Homo sapiens: one gene and its partners. Each later gene encodes a partner of the first gene's protein in a complex. Each region holds a gene or a part of one and is shown in the gene's direction. Other genes may lie near its edges.

Region 1 (5,814 bases):
AATTTTTTCTTTCTTTCTTTCTTTCTTTCTTTCTTTCTTTCTTTCTTTCTTTCTTTCTTTCTTTCTTTCTTCTTTCTTTTTTTTTTTTTTTTTTTTGATACGGAGTCTTGCTCTGTTGCCTAGGCTGGAGTGCAGTGGTGCGATCTCAGCTCACTGCAAGCACCGCCTCCCGGGTTCACGCCATTCTCCTGCCTCAGCCTCCTGAGTAGCTGGGACTACAGGCACCCGCCACCACGTCCGGCTAATTTTTTGTATATGTAGTAGAGACGGGGTTTCACCGTGTTAGCCAGGATGGTCTCGATCTCCTGACCTCGTGATCTACCCGCGTTGGCTTCCCAAAGTGCTGGGATTACAGGTGTCAGCCACCACGCCCGGTCAATTTTTGTATTTTTAGCAGAGAGGAGGTTTCACTGTGTTGGCCAGGCTGGTCTCGAACTCCTGACTTCATGTGATCGGCCCACCTTGGCCTCACAAAGTGCTGAGATTACAGGCATGAGCCATCACGCCCCGCCCTAAAACACCAAATCTTATTAAATCTATATTCTACAACTCTGTCACATCCATCACTTCATCTCTGCCCACTCCTAGCACTGACTTAGCTGAGGACATCATCAATTCTGATCAAAGGACCCTAAGTCTAAGTAACAATACCACTTTCATGGTAGGCTTTCCCCGGAACCAGCTGGACATAATGAGAATTTTCAAGAGAATGTGAATTGCTCTTTACTTGATTTTCTTTTTTTTTGAGATGGAGTATCGCTTTTGTCGCCCAGGCTGGAGTGCAATGGTGCGATGTCAGCTCACTGCAACCTCCACCTCCCGGGTTCAAGCGATTCTCCTGTCAGCTTAGCCTCCTGGGTAGGTGGGATTACAGGCGCCCGCCACCAAGCCCGGCTAATTTTTTTTTTTTTTTTTTTGTATTTTTAGTAGAGATGGGGTTTCACCATGTTGGTCAGGCTGGTCTGGAACTCCTGACCTCAGGTGATCCGTCCGCCTCGGCCTCCCAAAGTGCCGGGATTTCAGGCACGAGCCACCGTTCCCGGCGATTTTCTTTTCTTTAAGACTAATCTGAAAGTGCGGAACTCTGTGTACCTGAAATGATTACATTTTGATATTGACATGAAAAAATTGGGTACTACTTTGCCCCAGTTTCTCAACCCAACAAAGACATTCCAAAAGTTTCCTATGGGGCCTAGGAAGGTTGGCCTTCACAGGATAGTGGCAGGAGTGTTAACTTTGTCCTATTACCAAAAGGTGTCAAAGCTGTTACTAAATTGTCTGTGTCAGTATCGGAAACCCCGACAGCACTGGAGAATTCCTCATGGTCCTTCCAGACCATGGTCACAGTGAGAAGCAGATTCTGTTGCCCTGGCCCTGTGGGGAAATCCCCAAGATGGCTGCTGATAGTTAAGGAAACAGTGTCCTGCCATGGCCTGACCCTAGGCTGGGTGAGAGAGAGTGGGTCAGACAGGCTGCACTTCCTCAGTGAGTGTGCATACACCTGTTCGCACTGCCTATCGTTTCCTCACCCAGTGTGAGAGCAGGGGGCTCAGTTGGGCTGAGTGGAGAATTCATGGGACCTTTCCATGGTCAAGGCCCAGAGCTTCTATTGTGTAGCATCCCTGGAACAGAGAACAGGAGGCAGTCACAAGGCCCCAGCTTCAACCTTTGACAGTACACCAGAAAAGACCAAGTAGTGAGGCCTCCACTGTCTCACACCAGCCAAGAAAGACCAGGTCTTAGACTATCCAGTGTTCCTGCCTCTCTTTCACGGTGCTGTATCTGGGGAATGAATACTCCATTGTCATAGGAGGGGCAGATGCGGGCGGAAGACTCAGAAGGGTCAAGGTAGGACATAGACATTCCCACTAAGCTAGAGACCCCTGAACTGCCATAGCCATGACATGCACACGTTGTCCTCAAATCCCAGGGCCATGGGCAGGTCTTGGATATCTTTGGAATTTTAAGTTGGTTGGCATCTGTCTAGTTTTAAACCTGATTTAGGTTCAGTTCAACCAGGGAGTATGATTCTTTGGGGAGAGGGCCCTGACCTAGAAATCTACATGCTCAGCGGTCTGCTCAGCCACTAATGGCTCTGACACACTGGAAAGGCACTCACCCTCTGGGAGTTTCAGACTGTATCTTTGAAAACAAAATTCAGTGGATGGGGTGCAAAGGTATTGTCCTCAACAGCTCTAAGTTACTACTTCTAACTCACAGAGCACATATCACAAAGGATCCCACTATCCATTGTCGGTCTGAGCAGGGAATGAGACTTTGGCAGACCATGAATCCTGTATTAATTTCTAGGGGGACTATAACAAAATACCACAGACTTGGGGGTTTAAACTGAGATTGCACCACTGCACTCCAGCCTGGGTGACAGAGTAAGACCCTGAGTCAAACAAAAAAAAAAAAAGTGTATACATGGGAGCACTCTGTGATGAGTAACTCAAAGGAGTGGTTAGAATTTGGGATCTACCTAGCAGCAGGGGAAAAGGAGGAGGAGTAAAGGACATATGGAAAACCAAATGACTTTTGAAAAGATAAATGGGCCCTTAGAATAGATGGAAGATTCGAGTCTTGTGACAATGTCTATTTGGGTGTGGTGACCACTTCTCATCTCCGAGGTTAGATTTGCTTCTAGTGCTGAAGAAGATTTATGACAACTGAGTTAAAAATTTGAGATTTGCGAGGAGGATCTGCTATTAAACAGGTAAGGGATTTTAGCTGTTTGTTTCAGCTGAAAATAATTCTTAAGTCGAAACTGGCACATTTGGAGGTAGCATGTCCTGATCCCCTTAAAAAGGGAACTGCACAGACACCGTATCTCTGATTCTGCCCAGGGTCCTGTGCCCTCTGACACCAGAAATCACCACTTCTCTCAGCCTTGTTTTGCGGTTGTTTTATCATGTTGCAATTTGGTTATGTCTTTTCTAATAGTGTTTAAAAGCAATCAAAGGCAGGAACTTTTCCTTTTATAAACTATTGTTGAGCTTATATTGGACACTGAACTAAGTGTCAGTTTACAAAAATGAATAAACAAAAATCACTGCCAGTAGGGAACACACAGCCAAGATGGGGGAGTAGTAAGATGTAAAGAGATGTAAAATAATGTGATAGATTCGGCCAGAGTTACTAAAGAGTCAGAAAAGGGCAAGCATGTTTCTTCCCTGTCCTGAAGCAGCCAAGGGAGAGGAAGATATCTGTTGCCAATGCTGGGGTGTTGGTTTAGGCATGTAGATGCTGTGATGCGCAGTGGAACCGTTCAATGAGCAGACAGGAGAACCAGCTTTATGCGGGGAGGGAGAGAATTGCTCCCCTCATCCCCCGTGAGTCACACCCTGGAGATTATAAGTTTAAACATTTTGATTTCGGGAGATTTTGAGTTTTGGGCTTAAAATGACTGAAGAACCACCAGGTGGATCTACGTGTCTCGAGTCCAGAAGTCTGAATACAGATTTACGATTTATGAGCACACAGAAGGTGGATCCAAGGGAGAGATTAAACAGGGCACAGAAGAGTTTTTAAAAATAATATTTTTCGGGAAAAAAACCCCAACAAAACACGATTCTTTCAGCAGAAACCAGAAGATTTTCTCATAGACTCTCCTACAGAGAGCCCTGATAAAGTAATAAACATGCTAACAGTAAGAACCCCAACCAATTTCATAGGGCAGTTTGCGGTAACTACTCCCAGTATGGAGCAGACAGTCCTCTTGCAAAACCCGATTTAGCAAACTTTGCTAGCTCCATGTGGGGCCTCCAAAGGACACAGCTGGGCACTAAATCCTGGCTGAAAACAAAGGCCGATTTAGAGGATCCGTAGAAACGGATGCACAGAATATCCCTCAGTCTTCTCTATGTAGCAGGCCCTCCATATACGCGGGTTCCCCAAGACCGAAAATATTAAACAAATGAATTTCTTTTTTAAAAAAAAGTACAACAAAAGATAGTAAAAATAAAAACAGTATAACAATTACTTACATAGCATTTACACTGGATTAGGTGTTACGAAGTAATTTAGAGACTATTTAAAGTACACGGGAGGATGTGCATAGTTATGTGCAAATACTACGCCACTTTCTATGAGAGACTTGAGCAACCTGGATTTTGGTATCGGCGGGGGCCCTGGACCAATCCCCTCTCAGTTCTACCGAGGGAGAACTGTTTTGTTTCTTCCAGCACGGCTTTGACCGACAGTGTGTTGGGATTCGCTGACGTCCATGAGAAAGCTTGGCAGCATGCTGAGACCAATTTTCCCAGGGCCAGAATTCTCCTGTGTGAGCTAAAATACAGTGGCTCGGTCCAACAAAACAGAGCCTGGAGCCAGGAATTATGGCGAACCTGCTCCCTCCCGTCCTCCCTTGGCGCACAGATCCCTGGCGCCGCCGCTCTTGAGGTCGCCTCTCGCGTGTCGACCTCATCGTCGGAACGGCGCTTCCTGAAGCTTTATATAAGCACGGCTCTGAATCCGCTCGTCGGGATTAAATCCTGCGCTGGCGCGCTCCTGCCAGTCTCTGGCCTCCATTTGCTCTTCCTGAGGCTCCCTCCAGAGACCTTTCCCTTAGCCTCAGTGCAATGCCTTCCGGGCGTCCTCAGACCAGACACAGGCCAAAGCCACTACAGAATCCGGAAGCCCCGGTTGGGATCTGAATTCTCCCGGGGACTGTGGCGTAGCGGTTAAAAAAAAAAAAGAGTGAGAGGGACCTGAGCAGAGTGGAGGAGGAGGGAGAGGAAAACAGAAAAGAAATGACGAAATGTCGAGAGGGCGGGGACAATTGAGAACGCTTCCCGCCGGCGCGCTTTCGGTTTTCAATCTGGTCCGATACTCTTGTATATCAGGGGAAGACGGTGCTCGCCTTGACAGAAGCTGTCTATCGGGCTCCAGCGGTCATGTCCGGCAGAGGAAAGGGCGGAAAAGGCTTAGGCAAAGGGGGCGCTAAGCGCCACCGCAAGGTCTTGAGAGACAACATTCAGGGCATCACCAAGCCTGCCATTCGGCGTCTAGCTCGGCGTGGCGGCGTTAAGCGGATCTCTGGCCTCATTTACGAGGAGACCCGCGGTGTGCTGAAGGTGTTCCTGGAGAATGTGATTCGGGACGCAGTCACCTACACCGAGCACGCCAAGCGCAAGACCGTCACAGCCATGGATGTGGTGTACGCGCTCAAGCGCCAGGGGCGCACCCTGTACGGCTTCGGAGGCTAGGCCGCCGCTCCAGCTTTGCACGTTTCGATCCCAAAGGCCCTTTTTAGGGCCGACCACTTGCTCATCTGAGGAGTTGGACACTTGACTGCGTAAAGTGCAACAGTAACGATGTTGGAAGGTAACTTTGGCAGTGGGGCGACAATCGGATCTGAAGTTAACGGAAAGCTACCGCGGCCCATAGCGCTCACAGCCGTAAAGACTTAAGTCGTTGACCGAAAGCGGCTTTTTCACTTACCTGGGCTTTTTTTTTTTTTTTTTTTTTTTTTAAAGCCTTTATCGGTATGAAAGGTTGAATGCTCTAGGTTTGAGCACTGCTTTCTCGGCTTGCTCTTCTGGTGCAGTATAGGCACACCTAGAGGGCCACGTCAGTCTTTGCGATCACCAAATCTGGTTCTGAGAAATAGGCACTGGCAATTTACACATGCCTTGCTGTGTAATCTCACTATATTTGCTCAGGCAAAGTGGGAGAAGCAGCCTTAGGTTTTCATTCTAGAGATGCCGGCTTTCCCACCTGATCGGCTTAGAGTTCACGATTGACTGTTTTGGGCTTCATTTCACCCTCTACATAACAAGCGGGTGGACTAGATGCCTTAGCAAGGGTCCGTGT
Region 2 (6,951 bases), on another chromosome or scaffold:
TGGGGGGCCACGTGGAGAAAGGAGACCCGGGGCTGGTTGAGCTCCTGCAGCCCCACCTCCGCAGTCCCGGGGCAACCAGCCCTGTGGGAGTTCAGGATGGGAGGGGCTGGCCTGAGGGCAAGGGCAGTGTCCACACAAGGCCCTTCCAGATGTGGGATGTGGGTGCCTCAAGTCTGCAAGTGCGGCCCAGCGTACTCAGCAGGCATCTGCCCTGTGACCATGACATGCAGCAGCTGAGCCTTATGGCCTGGGGGAGCCAGGCACCTGGGAGGACCACGGTGGGTCCTCGGCCACCGGGAACTGGAGCACGGGCTTCCCGTGGCGTTGCCAACGTGGGCCACACATGACAGGACCGCCAAACACACGGCTTGTGTCCAAGACCCTGAGACATCTTGACGTCCCGACCTGCTCCTTTGTCTTCTCTGAGGATGGGGGCGTGGGGGTCCACACTCCGCAGATGTGGGGGGCATAGCCTAAGCCAGGCCCCACCCTTCTCCCTCCCTTGTCTCATCCCCACCCCCTGGTGAGCACCACATCCCTCATTTATAAAAATAGGCCAGGCACGGTGGGTCACGCCTATAATCCCAGCACTTTGGGAGGCCGAGGCGGGCGGATCACCTGAGGTTAGGAGTTTGAGACCAGCCTGACCAACATGGTGAAACCCCATCTCTACTAAAAATACAAAAATTAGCTGGGCGTGGTGGCGCGCGCCTGTAATCCCAGCTACTCAGGAGGCTGAGGCAGGAGAATCGCTTGAACCCAGGAGGCAGAGGTTTCAGTGAGCTGAGATTGTGCCACTGCACTGCAGCCTGGGTGACAAAGCGAGATTCCGTCTCAAAAAAATAATAATTTTTTAAAGAGCAGAGCAAGAAGTGTTTTTACCATTGTTGGAAATGACTTATGTGTCACTTTTGTGGTCTGCGTTCTCTTTGGATATTTTCTGTATGTAACAACTGTAGTTTAAAAAAATATTCCAACCCATGTTTTGTCTGTGTTTCCTTACCAGAAGACAGACACACAGCTGGGCCTTCTGGGCTCTGCTGGCCTCCCCTGCTGCCCTCAGCCTGTGGCAATCTGCACCAGGCCTGCAGCCCTGCACAGCACTGCCTGACGTGTGTACCTTGTCTGGTTACTGGGGAAACAGGCACAGAGAAATTGGGTTGTCAGCCGGGCATGGTGGCTCACGCCTGTGATCCCAGCACTTTGGGAGGCTGAGGCGGGTGGATGACCTGAGGTTGGGAGTTCGAGACCAGCCTAACCAACATGGTGAAACCCTGTCTCTACAAAAATACAAAAATTAGCTGGGCGTGGTGGTGGGCATCTGTAATCCCAGCTACTCAAGAGGCTGAGGCAGGAGAATCACTTGAACCTGAGAGAAGGCGGTTGCAGTGAGCCAGAATCACGCCATTGTGCCCCAGCCTGGGCAACAAGAACAAAATTCTGTCTCGGAAAAAAAAAAAAAAAAAAGAGAGAAATTGGGTTGTCTCTGAAGGGGAATTCGGCTTCCAGGAGCTGGGCTGTCCTGTGGACCCTGGGGCTGAAGGGGATACTTAATCGTTGTCCAGGTAGCTCAGGGAGCCCCTCTGGTGTCCAAGCCACCCTGTCTTCAGCTGTTCATCTGAGTCCTCTGATTCTGAATCTCACTCCCCACTCCCTCCCTCAAGCCTCACTGTGCCCCTCACACACCTCACCAGCTTGCCCTCCAAGTAGTTGCCTTGGCTCAGAGCCATGCTTTGGATGGGCAAGGGGTTGGCAGTGCAGACCTCCACAACCTGTCCTCACACCCAGGCCTGCCTGGATTTCCTGCCTCCTGCAGCTTGTGACTGCACAGGTGTGCAGGCTTGGCCTGGTCCCACCCCTGCAGCCTTGGAGGCACCGAGGCCCAAATCTGCCCAGTCCAGGGGCCACGCCAGGAGGCCAGCGCTCTGCCGTCAGCCTGAGGAGGGCTCCAGCAGCCTTTACTGGACCCAGGGACCTGTCAGTGCATCACACCACTCTCTCCCCAACAGATCTCTCTGGCTGAGTTTTGCCCAACGACTTGCTGTAATTACGATGGAAATTAACTCATCTATCTTCCACTCCTGAGGCTCCTCAGTTGGACTCTGTGCACCCAGCCTCCTCTGGGGCCTCTGGGAAACCAGCCACTGCACCTGAGTGCAGTGCTGGGTGTGCTGTGTAGCCGGGAGTCAGATACCCAAGGCATGGCAGGTGTTTGGTCCTCAAGGTAATGGGGGATAGCAAGGGTATTTTAGAGGCCTGGGTGCCCCATGTCACAGGATTCTAGACATAATTTTGCAGTTGTTTTCTCTCTTTCTTCCTTTTTTTTTTTTTTTTTGAGACAAGAGTCTCGCTCTGTTGCCCAGGCTGGAGTGCAGTGGCGCCATCTCCGCTCACTGCAAGCTCTGCCTCCCGGGTTTACGCCATTCTCCTGCCTCAGCCTCCCCAGTAGCTGGGACTACAGACACCCGCCACCACGCCCGGCTAATTTTTTGTATTTTTAGTAGAGATGGGGTTTCACCGTGTTAGCCAGGATGGTCTCGATCCACTGACCCCATGATCTGCCTGCCTCAGCCTCCCAAAGTGCTGGGATTACAGGGGTGAGCCATTGCGCCCGGCCCTCTCTTTCTTCCTTTCTTTCTTTTCCTCCCTCCCTCCCTTTCTTTTTTTTAAATAAAGATGGGGTATCGGGCTGGGCATGGTGGCTTACACCTGTAATACCGGCACTTTGGGAGGCCGAGGTGGGCGGATCACAAGGTCAGGAGTTTGAAACCAGCCTGGCCAGCATGGTGAAACCCCGTCTCTACTAAAATGCAAAAATTAGCCGGGCATGCTGGCACGCGCCTGTAGTCCCAGCTACTTGGAAGGCTGAGGCAGGAAAATCGCTTGAACTCGGGAGGCGGAGGTTGTGGTGAGCCGAGATCACACCATTGCACGCCAGCCTGGGTGACAGAACGAGACTCCGTCTCACACACACACACACACGAAAGATGGGGCCTCACTATGTTGCCCAGGCTGGTCTCGTACTGCTAGGCTCAAGCGATCCTCCTGACCGGGCCTCCCATAGCGCTCGGATTACAGTGCGGGCCACTGTGCCCGGGCTACTTCTGCAGCTGAAGCACAGGTTCACTGACTCTTCCGAGAATACAGCTGGCATACACATTGCTGAAACAATACTTGTTCACTATGGAAAGCACATTCCCCTCCCAAAACAGTCCTTGGGGCCGAGTCCCCAAATGTGACCCAGCTGCGTTCTGCGGAGGAGGAGCGCGCCTGACACCTTATTACGTCCCCACAGCCAAATGCTCGTGAATTTATCGTCAGTCTATCTGGACACTACGTTCGTTTTTAATAGTTGCGCCTGTGAGCAGGCTGTGTGTGTGAATTTCGGGAGGAATTGGGGCGGCGGCACAGCTCGTCCACCATGAGTAGCGCGGGCGGCACGGGGGCTGCAGCCCAGAAGACCCCACCCAGGGCGCGCTGCGACCCCGGACGGGCTGGCTCCGGGCCCCCGGCCTCCCGCGTCCCCGCCGCCTACGAGGAGGAACGGGGTCCCCACCAGGCACTCCCCGGGCCGGGCAGAGGGCTCCACGCGCGGGCCAACCCGGCGTCCGGGAAGACGGCCCCTAGGGTGGGACGCCCCAGTTGTCGCCGCCACCCCGCCCCAGCTCCTCCCGCACGAGAACTCCGAGGATGCCGCGGGCGGGCCGACCGTACTTCCCGGAATGCCCCGCGCCCGCCGCCGCCGTCGAGGGGCGGGGCCTGCGTGTCGGCGGCGAGGGGCGGGGCCTGCGTGTCGGCGGCGAGGGGCGGGGCCTGCGTGTCGGCGGCGAGGGGCGGGGCCTGCGTGTCGGCGGCGAGGGGCGGGGCCGCGGCGCAGCGCGGGAAGTCCGGATCCCGCGGCGATCCGAGCATGAGCCTGGAGCGCGAGCTTCGCCGTAAGTTCCTCGGGGACCCCTTCCTCCGGGGGCGCGGAGGCTGGGGAGGGCTTGGGACTCGGCCCCGGCCCCGGACCCCGCCGCGGAGGCCCAGCCCTCCTCTTCCTCCCACAGAGCTGAGCAAGGCGAAAGCCAAGGCGCAGAGGGCCGGGCAGCGGCGCGAAGAGGCCGCGCTGTGCCACCAGCTGGGGGAGCTCCTGGCCGGCCATGGTGAGCGCCGGGACCAGGAGGCGGGAGGCAGGGCCGGGGCCCGGGCCCGGGCCGGGATCGGGGGCCGGGGGGCGACGGGCTCTTCCGGCAGACGCCGCCCCAGGGCCGCCCTCGCACCCGCGACGCCTGCCAGGCCGTGCTGTGCCCCCGCCTAGGCCGCTACGCCGAGGCTCTGGAGCAGCACTGGCAGGAGCTGCAGCTTCGGGAGCGCGCTGACGACCCTCTGGGCTGTGCCGTGGCCCACCGCAAGATCGGAGAGCGCCTGGCCGAGATGGAGGACTACCCGGCTGCCTTGCAGGTGCGGGCGCCCTCACTGGCCTCGTCCAGCCCGGTCGGCCTCTGGAGCCCTTTTCTGAGGAGGGAGGCCTGGTCTTCGCCGTCAGGAGCCTCGGGCTGGAGGGGACACCTGACCTGACGCAGCCTTGCCTTCACCGCCCCGGGCCAGTCCTCCGGTGGGGACCCCACAGCCTTTCCTGGGACTGGGGCAGGAGTAGGTTTCCTGGCACCAGAAACCATTACTGAACGTTATTTTAGCTGTGTTTGTGTTGGGGGAGGTCAGGCCCCATCCCAAAAGCTCTCCCTGACCCTGGCTGCTGGAGGCAGGACTGCAACCCCCCCGCCAACTCCCAGCTGCCCCTCCCCACGTGACAGCGTTGGCTGCATACAGCGTGAAGCCACTGTCACCACAGAGAGCCCTTGGCATGCAGAGGAGGGGCACGTGTCTGGCCTTGGCCTGCTCTGTGGGGGTTAGGGGGAGCAGGCTCTTTCCTTAGCAAGAACAGGGTCTCTGGGAATCTGGCGGTGCCGGTTTGCTTGAGGCGGAGTCGGCTCACAGCAGTGACTTCCTTCCACACTCAGCACCAGCACCAGTACCTGGAGCTGGCACATTCCCTGCGCAACCACACGGAGCTGCAGAGGGCCTGGGCCACCATCGGCCGCACCCACCTGGACATCTATGACCACTGCCAGTCGAGGGATGCTTTGCTGCAGGCACAGGCTGCCTTTGAGAAGAGCTTGGCTATTGTGGATGAGGAGCTGGAGGGTGGGCAGACCCCTCCGCGTTTTCTGCCTCCTGAACTTCGGGCCGAAGAGGCTGCAGCCCAGCACCCCCGCAGCCTCCTTGGGCAATCCCGTCTTCTGGAGCCCTCCCTTTGCAAGGCTCTTGTGTGAGGGGTGCATGCCCCGCTCAACCTTTCCCCTGGAGATCGTCAGCTCTTTATCCACTCTGTGCTCCATCTGCCGCAGGACACTTGCACCCACCTCGGGAGGAGGGAGGGGGTAGGAGAGGCGCTGCACAGGCCCCAAATGGGGCCCAAAGCTGGAAACCCCATGTGGGGAGGAAGTGGCTGAGTGTTTGGGGGGGTATCTTCCAGGGACACTGGCCCAGGGAGAGCTGAATGAGATGAGGACCCGCCTCTATCTCAACCTGGGCCTCACCTTTGAGAGCCTGCAGCAGACAGCCCTGTGCAACGATTACTTCAGGAAGAGCATCTTCCTTGCGGAGTAAGGCCCTGCCCCGCCCCAGGAGGGAGTGGAGTCCCTTGTTCCTGGAGGAAGTAGTTAGGGGAGTATTTTTCCCAGAGTCCTCCTGAGAGAGCAGTCTGGCTGGGCCTCATCCCCCCACCTCTCACACCTGTGCCACACACTGGGAGAAGGCCAGGCATGGTTAGGGCCCTGAGACCACAGCATGGCAGGGCTGGGGCCCGTGTGGCATCAGCAGCTGTCATGGACACTCCTGGGTGCTCAGTGGTCGTCACCCCTCTGCAGGCAGAACCACCTTTACGAGGACCTATTCCGCGCCCGCTACAACCTGGGCACCATCCACTGGCGCGCGGGCCAGCACTCCCAGGCTATGCGCTGCTTGGAGGGTGCCCGGGAGTGTGCGCACACCATGAGGAAGCGGTTCATGGAGAGCGAGTGCTGCGTGGTTATTGCACAGGTACCCGCTGTGCGTGGCTCCGAGCTCAGGCTCTCGTAGATTCGGGCCTTGGGGATTCTGCAAAACCTTTGCTGTCCTTTGCTCTCCAGGTCCTCCAAGACCTGGGAGACTTTTTGGCTGCCAAGCGAGCCCTGAAGAAGGCCTACAGGCTGGGCTCCCAGAAGCCTGTGCAGAGGGCAGCCATCTGTCAGAACCTCCAGCATGGTGAGCCTGGGGGTGCGAATGGGGCCCTGGGAGGTGTGTGCAGGGGTGAGCCTGGGGGCGGGGTGGAGTCCCGCCAGGTGTGTACAGGGCTCTCTCCCTCACAGAGGAGGCCTGAGCACCTGTCCTTGGAGGCAGCAGCTTCAGCAAGAGGGGCAGGTACCCCTACTTCCTGACAGGAGAAGACCCCCTTTTTTCTCTGAGCTCAACACAGTGTGTCAGGGGCAATGAAAGGGCGGCCAGGAGACCAGCTGGGCTTTTATTTCGCAGCCACCATCTTCATTGGCAAACTGGAGACAGTAGTTGTACCCCTAGCCTCCCAGGGTGGGAGAGGAGATGGCACGCGTGGTCCAGGAGTGCTGATGGCAGAGACCACCATTGGAGGTTGGCAGCCGTCAGCCCTTACTTTGAGCCAGGCACCATCCATGTTGTGTTGTTTTTTTTTCTTGAGACGGAGTCTCGCTCTGTCACCCAGGCTGGAGTGCAGTGGCATGATCTCGGCTCACTGCAAGCTTCGCTTCCCGGGTTCATGCCATTCTCCTGCCTCAGCCTCCCGAGTAGCTGGGACTACAGGTGCCCGCCACCACACCCGGCTGATTTTTTGTATTTTTAGTAGAGACGAGGTTTCACCATGTTAGCCAGGATGGTCTCGATCTCCTGACCTCA
Region 3 (7,373 bases), on another chromosome or scaffold:
AGGCCATTTCTTTTTCTTCTTCTTCTTTTTTTTTTTTTTTTTTTTTTTTCTTTTGCGACAGGTCTTGCTCTGTTGCCCAGGCTGGAGTACAATGGCATAATCATAGCTCACTACATCCTCAAACTCCTGGGCTCAAGTGCTTCGCCTTCCTCAGCCTCCCAAGTACCTGGGACTATAGGTGCATGCCACCATGCCTGGCTGATTTTTTTTTTTTTTTTCTAGATACGGAGTCTTGCTACGTTGCCCACGCTGGTCTTGAACTCCTGGGCTCAAGTGATCCTCCTGCTTCAGCCTCCCAAAATGTTGATATTACCGGCATAAGCCACTGTGCCTGGCCTAGTTTGGGCATTTCTAGGCCTTTTTAGTAGACTGAACTAAAAGAGACTATAATATAGTCTCTTTTGCTGAAAATCTGGGTTCCTAACCACACAAGTATTTGCTCTTCCTAATGTATACATAAATACATAGGTATGCATATATGTAACAATACCAATATTTTCTAGCCATAGTATGACTGAAGGTAAGCTTTCTTTGGGGTAGTATAAAATTTCTGTGTTTGCCAATCACTTGAAATAATAACTCCTTGTGTGCATCACACACATCCATGTTGCTGCCTGTGTCAGTCAGTGTAGAGTTCTCCAGAAAATCGGAGCCCAATATGATAGATGCAAGAGATTGATCAGGAGGAGTGGCTTAAGTGGTTATGGAGTCTGAGAAGTCCCATGATCTGCTGTCTGCAAGATGGAGACCCAAGAAAGCCTGTGGTATAACTTAGTCCCACTCCAAAGCCCTGAGAACCAGGGACACCAGTGGCATAAGTCCTGGAGTCAAAAGACCTGAGAACCAGGAGCTCTGATGTCTGAGGGTGGAAGAGGATGTCCCAACTCAAGAAGAGACAGAATTTGCCCTTCCTCTACTTTTTGTTCTTTTCAGACTCAACAGGTTGGATGATGCCCCAGATACTGCCCAGGTTGGTGAGGGCGGATCTTCTGTACTCAGTCTACTGATTCAAATGCTAAAGTCTTCCAGAAACACCCTCATAGTCAGAAGTAATGTTGACCACCTATCGGGTATGTCTTAGCCCGGGCAAACTGAGGCATAAAATTAACTATCACAGTATTTCTTTTGGATTACCGAGTAGAATACCGTGGTATGAATATGGCACAGTCTGATTACCTTTTCTCCTGTGGGTGGACATTTGGTGTCTTTCTAGTTTGGGGCTATTATGGATAATGATTCTTGTATGAGTTTGCTTTTGTTTTCCTGATATATATGCCAAGGAGTGGAATTGCTGAGTCATAGGGTAGGCGTATCATTAACTTTATTAGACAGTGCTGAACAGTTTTCTAAAGTATTTACATCAGTTTACACTTCCACCAGTAGTGTGCCAGAGGTCCCGTTGTTCTCAATCTCCTGTATTGATTTCCGTCATTTCTATTTTTCTTTTTCTTTCTTTTTTTTTTTTTTTTTTTCAGACTGAGTCTGTTTCTGTCGCCCAGACTGGAGTGCAGTGGCATGATCTTGGCTCACTGCCCTCTGGGTTCAAGTGATTCTAGTGCCTCAGCCTCCGAGTAGCTGGGATTACAGGCGCCACCACCATGCCTGGCTGTTATTATTATTATTATTATTATTATTTTTGAGATGGAGTTCTGCTCTTGTTGCCCAGGCTGGAGTGCAATGGCGCAATCTCGGCTCACTGCAATCTCCGCCTCCCAGGTTGAAACGATTCTCTGGCCTCAGCCTCCTGAGTAGCTGGGATTACAGGTGCCTGCCACCGCGCCTGACCTATTTTTTCTATTTTTAGTAGAGATGGGGTTTCACCATGTTGGCCAGGCTGGTCTCAAATTCCTGACCTCAAGTGATCCGCCCGCTTCAGCCTCCCAGATGCTGCAATTACAGGCGTGAGCCACTACGCCTGGCTTCTCCTAGTTTTCTTATTCTGATATTTGCTCAACATTTTTTTCCAACCCTGTACTGAATTTTGTATGTCTGTTATCAAAGCTTTTTTTTTTTTTTTTTTTGAGACAGAATCTCACTCTGCCACCCAGGCTGGAGTGCAGTGGTGCCATCTCAGCTCACTGCAACCTCCAAGTCCCGGGTTCAATGGATTCTCTTGCCTCAGCCTCCCTAGTATCCCGAGTAGCTGGGATTACAGGCACACACTACCACTCTGTATAGTTTTTGTATTTTTATAGAGAAGGGGTTTTGCCATGTTGGCCAGGCTGGTCTGGAACTCCTAGCCTCAAGCAATCTGCCTGCTTTGGCCTCCCAAAGCGTTGGGATTATAGATGTGAGCCACCATGCCCGGCTCAGATTTTGATTTTAGAATGTTCACACTTACAAATGGAAATTAAAATGCCTTGAGAAGTTTTTTTTCGAAGCTGAGTTAAGAGTTAGTCCCTTTATATCAATTTTCATTATTAAAAAGTTCTCAGGAACCAAATAACATTGGTCCCCTTAAATTGAGGCAGTTCTGCTCAAAATGGATGCTTGGGGCCCAAGCTGAACAACAGTGGTTGTTGAGGAATCTAGTTAGAATTGCGTTATAGGAATTCCCTTTTTTTTTTTTTTTTTTTTTTTTGAGACAGAGTCTCGCTCTCTCGCCCAGGCTGGAGTGCAGTGGCACGATCTCGGCTCACTGCAAGCCCCGCTTCCCGGGTTCACGCCATTGTCTTGCCTCAGCCTCCCGAGTAGCTGGGACTACAGGCGCCCGCCGCCACGCCCGACTAATTTTTTGTAATTTTTGTAGAGATGGGGTTTCACCATGTTAGCCAGGATGGCCTCGATCTCCTGACCTCATGATCCGCCCACCTCGGCCTCCTAAAGTGCTGGGATTACAGGCGTGAGCTACCGCGACCGGCAGGAATTCTTTAGTCCAACATTTGTGGTGCAAACTTTGAGGTTTTGAACAAATACTTTTTTTTTTTTTTTTGAGAAAATATTTGACAGCCCAGGGCCTCTCTCTAGAGCCGCATCCCCTGCCCGTGTTGGCTCATCAAGTTGGCACTGAAGTCGGATCTCTAAAATGTTCGCCAAGAAAGCCAACTCCTTCATGTACTTTTAATACTTAAAGCATGTGTTTTTATCTTTTAAATCCACAGTTCAGAGTCGTGACACTTCAAGAGGTGGGCAGATTATTCATTTGTGAATGAACAGCATTTATGAGAAATTTGGAGAAATTTTATGTTTGAGAGACACGAAGAATCCAGAGCTTTCCAAAACAGACTGATGATCACACCCACCGGGGAGTTTATGAAAATGCAAGCCCCTGGAGCACGGGCCTCTGCTGGATATTCGGAATCATGGGGCTGAGTAGGGCCAGGAATCTGTACTTTTAGAACAGCCATATTATCTAAAGTATATAGTCATTCCCAGTCCAAGCTCTGTAAATCCTGAAGAGAAAAATCTAAAAACTGCATATCCGGATTATGTTATTCTAGCTTCCTGTAGAAATCAGGCTTCAAGGAGCATACAGCCATTCTCATCAACATGAGACACGGATTTGTAGGCAATTTCTGTACCTTTCATAAAGCTGGCTAAAAGCATCAGCCGGTATTTATATAAGAATCCATGTCTGTTCTTTTTTTCCAAAAATCCTAGAGCAGTTGGCTCCTCAGATAACCCTGTGTGTTTCTTTTATCCAGTAAAAGCAGCGCATCCAGAGGTACTTGTTTCCTGGCCTTCTGCGAAGCCCACAGATAAATTAGGTCTCATTTGGAAACGTCCCATTTCGAAAAGCCTGAGGTATCTATCTCTGCCTACCGACTGATTTACAGCCTCACTTTAAAATGTTAGTCTGTTCTTAAAAAGGGTTTATAACTGCATCTACTATAATAATAAAATGTAAGCAACCTTGCGCTAGGTACTGAACAATTTCATAGCTTTGAACTCTCCAAAATGTTCTAGAAGCCAATACAGAAAACCCAAAAATCTCAGTTTTTGTTTGCAGAAGGGGCAAGAGAACCGGTTGTGTTAGCCCTCCAAGTGCCCAGCGCCAGCATAGGGTCTGTCTAACACACAGCCCAGGCTCTGTAAACCTTTGCTAAAAGAGCGAATCAACAAGGAATAAGTAATGGATAATAATAATAAATAATAATGAATCCATTCTTCCTTCGGTCGTGGGTCTGGCAGGCATAAATTCCGGCCGGGATTCCGACCCCAGGGCCAGAGCAGGACTCGCCTTGGCGTCTATGAGTGGGCGGGGCTTCCCTGGGGTACCGCCCACGTCGGGCGGGACCTGAGGGCCGCTGGAGGGGCGGGGCGTCTATGAGGTCCCGCCCATGCGGGGGCGGGGCCTGCGGCGCGCGGGAAGCGGCGCGCGCTGCGCGGGAGGTGACGGTGCCTCTGACTGTCCGGGTCCCTCCAGGTACGGCTTCCCTGGCCCGGGCAGCTCCGCGGCTCTTTTGGTCGCGTCGGTCCGGGCCAGAGGCCCTCGCCGAGGGCGGGCCCCTGGGCCCCGGGATAGCTCCGGAGCGGCGCGCGTTGGGGCGGCGGGGCCCCGTCCACCCCCGGCCCCGCGCGGCCTCCTCCCGGCGGCCTCAGTCCCAGCTTCCCGGGCCCAGCGCCCGGTCCCTGGGAAAGGCGGGGTTCTCCTCTCGCCCCGCCGCCCCGGTCCCCTACCCCGTTTGGCCCCCTCTTCCGGGAGGCTCCTCCCGGGGCGGGCCCCTCCCCGGGCTCTCAGGGCGCGCCCCTAGCCCCTACTAAGCGGGGACAGGCCGTGCAGACGGCCGGGGCCCCTAGGTAGCCTTTACCTGGGTGTTTCGTTTTGCTTTTCTGGATGTAGCGGCGTATCATAAACTTGTGGATGTCAGGACCCAGCGAAGCATTTTAGGTGGAGCTAGCAAGGTGTTATTGTCAGATGGCAACGTTAACATCCTTTCCCAATGCAGTGTGCATTTTAAATGGCTCCTGGCCCCTATTCAGCGCTCAATAACCCTTTGCTGCTGTTAACACTGTTGTTTAATCCATCACCAGCATTTTGCAGCTTTCTCCTGTCTTGAAGAAGTAGAACGGTGCCCGAGAAACGTTTTTCCCCTTCGAGACTCAGGAGGATGAAAGTCATCACTTGTGAAATAGCCTGGCACAACAAGGAGCCCGTGTACAGCCTGGACTTCCAGCATGGGACGGCTGGGAGGATCCACAGACTGGCGTCTGCCGGCGTGGACACCAATGTCAGGGTAAACTGGGGCAGAGATAGACATCCGGGAACACTGCTTGAAGCAATAGTTTTCATTCTTTTACTTAAAACCAGTGTCGGCTGGGCGCGGTGGCTTACGCCTGTAATCCCAGTGCTTTGGGAGGCTGAGGTGAGAGGATCGCTTGAGTCCAGGAGTTCGACACCAGCCTGGGCAACAGCCAGACATGAAAAAGTAGCGGGACGTGGCAGTGTGCAGCTGTAGGCCCAGCTACTTGGGAAGTTGAAGTGAGAGGATCGCTTGAGCCTAGGAGTTTGAAGCAAGCAACGATCACTCCACTGCACTCCAGCCTGGGTGACAGAGCCAGACCCTTCTCTTAAGTAAATGAATGAATGAATTAACGTATGTCAACAAACTAAACTACTTTGTCATCTAGCCCAGAATGCTAAATTTCCAGGGCCTGCGGTGAACAATGAAAGCAAAAGAGAGCTGCTTTCTTTTTTTTTTTTTTGAGACGGAGTCTTGCTCTGTTGCCCAGGTGGGAGTGCAGTGGTGCAATCTCGACTTACTGCAACCTCTGTCTCCCAGGTTCAAGCTATTCTCCTGCCTCAGCCTCCCAAATAACTGGGACTACAGCCGCTCATCACCACACCTGGCTAATTTTTGTATTTTTAGTAGAGATGGGGTTTTACCATGTTGGCCAGGCTGGTCTCAAACTCCTGACCTCAGGTGATCCACCCACCTTGGCCTCCCAAAGTGCTGGGATTACAGGCCTGAGCCACCATGCCCGGCTCTGCTTTCTTATTTGATTCATTTTCCCTAGATTATTGTAACTGGACGTTCATTGTTTTGGGATCCTGATCCTGGTTCCTACTGGGTAACAAGTTGCTCTAGAAAGAAGGCGGAGGGGGACAGTAGACATTTATGTTTTAGATAGGGAGTTCTTTGATTTTATGTTTCAAAAGAAAAACTAAGTTTTCTTTCTGAAAATAAGCATAGTTTTGTTTTTTTTTTTTTTTTGAGACAGGGTCTTACTCTGTCGCCCAGGCTGGAGTGCAGTGGCCTGATCTTGGCTCAGTGCAGCCCCGACCCGGGGCTCAAGTGATCCTCCCTCTTAAGCCTCCCGCATAACTGGAACTACAGGCATGTGCCATCACACTTGGCTAATTTTTTAAATTTTCTGTAGAGACTAGGTCTCACTGTGTTTCCAGGCTGGTCTTGAACTCCTGGCCTCAAGTGATTTACCCACCTTGGCCTCCTAAACTGCTGGGATTACAGTTGTGAGCCACCACACCCAGCCCATAGTATTGTTTTAATACAGACAGTATAATATGTGCCCATTCTATGTTTTTCAAATGAATGTGTTGGTATTGACAGATCTGGAAGGTAGAAAAGGGACCAGATGGAAAAGCCATCGTGGAATTTTTGTCCAATCTTGCTCGTCATACCAAAGCCGTCAATGTTGTGCGTTTTTCTCCAACTGGGGAAATTTTAGCATCGGGAGGAGATGGTGAGTATTGCTGTCCTTCAGAGATTCTTCGGGAACCAGATAGATACCTGTGTGTCTTGTGTCAGATAGTGAGATTTGAGCTGGATATGCTTTTTTTTTTTTTTTGAGATAGAGTTTCACTCTTGTTCCCCAGGCTGGAGTGCAGTGGTGCAAACTCGACTCACTGCAACCTCCGCCTCCTGGGTTCAAGCGATTCTCCTGCCTCAGCCTCCTGAGTAGCTGGGATTACAGGCGCCTGCCACCACGCCCGGCTAGTTTTTTTGTGTGTTTTTAGTAGAGACAGGGTTTCATCATGTTGGTCAGGCTGATCTCGAACTCCTGACCTCAGGTGATCCACCTGCCTCGGCCTCCCAAAGTGTTGGGATTACAGGCGTGAGCCACTGCGCCCGGCCTGGATATGCTTTTTAGTTCAGGTGTGGCTGACCCTCTCAATCTGTCATTTAGGTAGTTCAGTAAAATACTGTTCTAGGGAATGTGGTAGAGTCAGGGAGGGAGGACAGCAAGATGAAACCAGGAACACCTGTTTGAAAACAGCTGCTTTCCCGCAAGCTCCCACCAGGCTGTTCTAAGACGAGATGGAAAGGCACTTACCATTCTGTCACATCCCAAGCAAGGCGACTGTTCTGGTTTTGTTGGATTGTTAGTTTAACATCTGTGGTGATCAGAGTCAGTTCTGTGTCTCTGTGTAATTAATTAAATGGCTTTAGGACTGTGTTAGTAATTAATTG

Evidence for each region. Proteins that work in one complex are often made in the same cells at the same time.
Region 2: the proteins of H4C15 (region 1) and TONSL are in contact, whole or in part, in a crystal structure (PDB 5JA4), measured with the Homo sapiens proteins. Residues at the interface, in NP_001029249.1 of Homo sapiens: Lys13 (codon at 4,932), Gly14 (codon at 4,935), Gly15 (codon at 4,938), Ala16 (codon at 4,941), Lys17 (codon at 4,944), Arg18 (codon at 4,947), His19 (codon at 4,950), Arg20 (codon at 4,953), Lys21 (codon at 4,956), Val22 (codon at 4,959), Leu23 (codon at 4,962), Arg24 (codon at 4,965), Asp25 (codon at 4,968), Ile27 (codon at 4,974), Gln28 (codon at 4,977), Glu54 (codon at 5,055), Gly57 (codon at 5,064), Val58 (codon at 5,067), Lys60 (codon at 5,073), Glu64 (codon at 5,085); in NP_038460.4 of Homo sapiens: Arg524, Asn526, Asp527, Met528, Glu530, Asp559, Tyr560, Cys561, Trp563, His567, Glu568, Asn571, Tyr572, Gly595, Glu597, Ile599, Asp604, Asn607, Cys608, Gly609, His610, Trp641, Tyr645, Asp648, Leu649, Asp650, Thr653.
Region 3: the proteins of H4C15 (region 1) and CHAF1B are in contact, whole or in part, in a cryo-EM structure (PDB 8IQG), measured with the Homo sapiens proteins. Residues at the interface, in NP_001029249.1 of Homo sapiens: Thr72 (codon at 5,109), Tyr73 (codon at 5,112), Thr74 (codon at 5,115), His76 (codon at 5,121), Ala77 (codon at 5,124), Lys78 (codon at 5,127), Arg79 (codon at 5,130), Met85 (codon at 5,148), Asp86 (codon at 5,151), Val88 (codon at 5,157), Tyr89 (codon at 5,160), Lys92 (codon at 5,169), Arg93 (codon at 5,172), Gly95 (codon at 5,178), Thr97 (codon at 5,184), Leu98 (codon at 5,187), Tyr99 (codon at 5,190), Gly100 (codon at 5,193), Phe101 (codon at 5,196), Gly102 (codon at 5,199); in NP_005432.1 of Homo sapiens: Lys13 (codon at 5,088), Pro15 (codon at 5,094), Tyr17 (codon at 5,100), Val37 (codon at 5,160), Lys67 (codon at 6,585), Ala68 (codon at 6,588), Asn70 (codon at 6,594), Asp86 (codon at 6,642), Asp87, Glu130, Asp131, Tyr133, Val149, Asn151, Lys171, Tyr173, Gln175, Asp231, Met233, Lys234, Ser235, Phe236, His347, Thr348, Thr366, Asp367.

The regions. Positions count from the first base shown.
Region 1 is NC_000001.11:149,860,213-149,866,026, reverse strand, and holds H4C15 (histone H4), read left to right. Parts: upstream 1-4,867; 5' UTR 4,868-4,895; coding exon 4,896-5,207; 3' UTR 5,208-5,263; downstream 5,264-5,814. UniProt on the Homo sapiens protein: Core component of nucleosome. Nucleosomes wrap and compact DNA into chromatin, limiting DNA accessibility to the cellular machineries which require DNA as a template.
Region 2 is NC_000008.11:144,441,374-144,448,324, reverse strand, and holds the start of TONSL (tonsoku-like protein), read left to right. Parts: upstream 1-3,884; 5' UTR 3,885-3,910; coding exon 3,911-3,935; intron 3,936-4,049; coding exon 4,050-4,145; intron 4,146-4,300; coding exon 4,301-4,443; intron 4,444-5,003; coding exon 5,004-5,187; intron 5,188-5,518; coding exon 5,519-5,648; intron 5,649-5,912; coding exon 5,913-6,084; intron 6,085-6,173; coding exon 6,174-6,288; intron 6,289-6,951. UniProt on the Homo sapiens protein: Component of the MMS22L-TONSL complex, a complex that promotes homologous recombination-mediated repair of double-strand breaks (DSBs) at stalled or collapsed replication forks.
Region 3 is NC_000021.9:36,381,086-36,388,458, forward strand, and holds the start of CHAF1B (chromatin assembly factor 1 subunit B), read left to right. Parts: upstream 1-4,306; 5' UTR 4,307-4,366; intron 4,367-4,974; 5' UTR 4,975-5,051; coding exon 5,052-5,177; intron 5,178-6,512; coding exon 6,513-6,645; intron 6,646-7,373. UniProt on the Homo sapiens protein: Acts as a component of the histone chaperone complex chromatin assembly factor 1 (CAF-1), which assembles histone octamers onto DNA during replication and repair.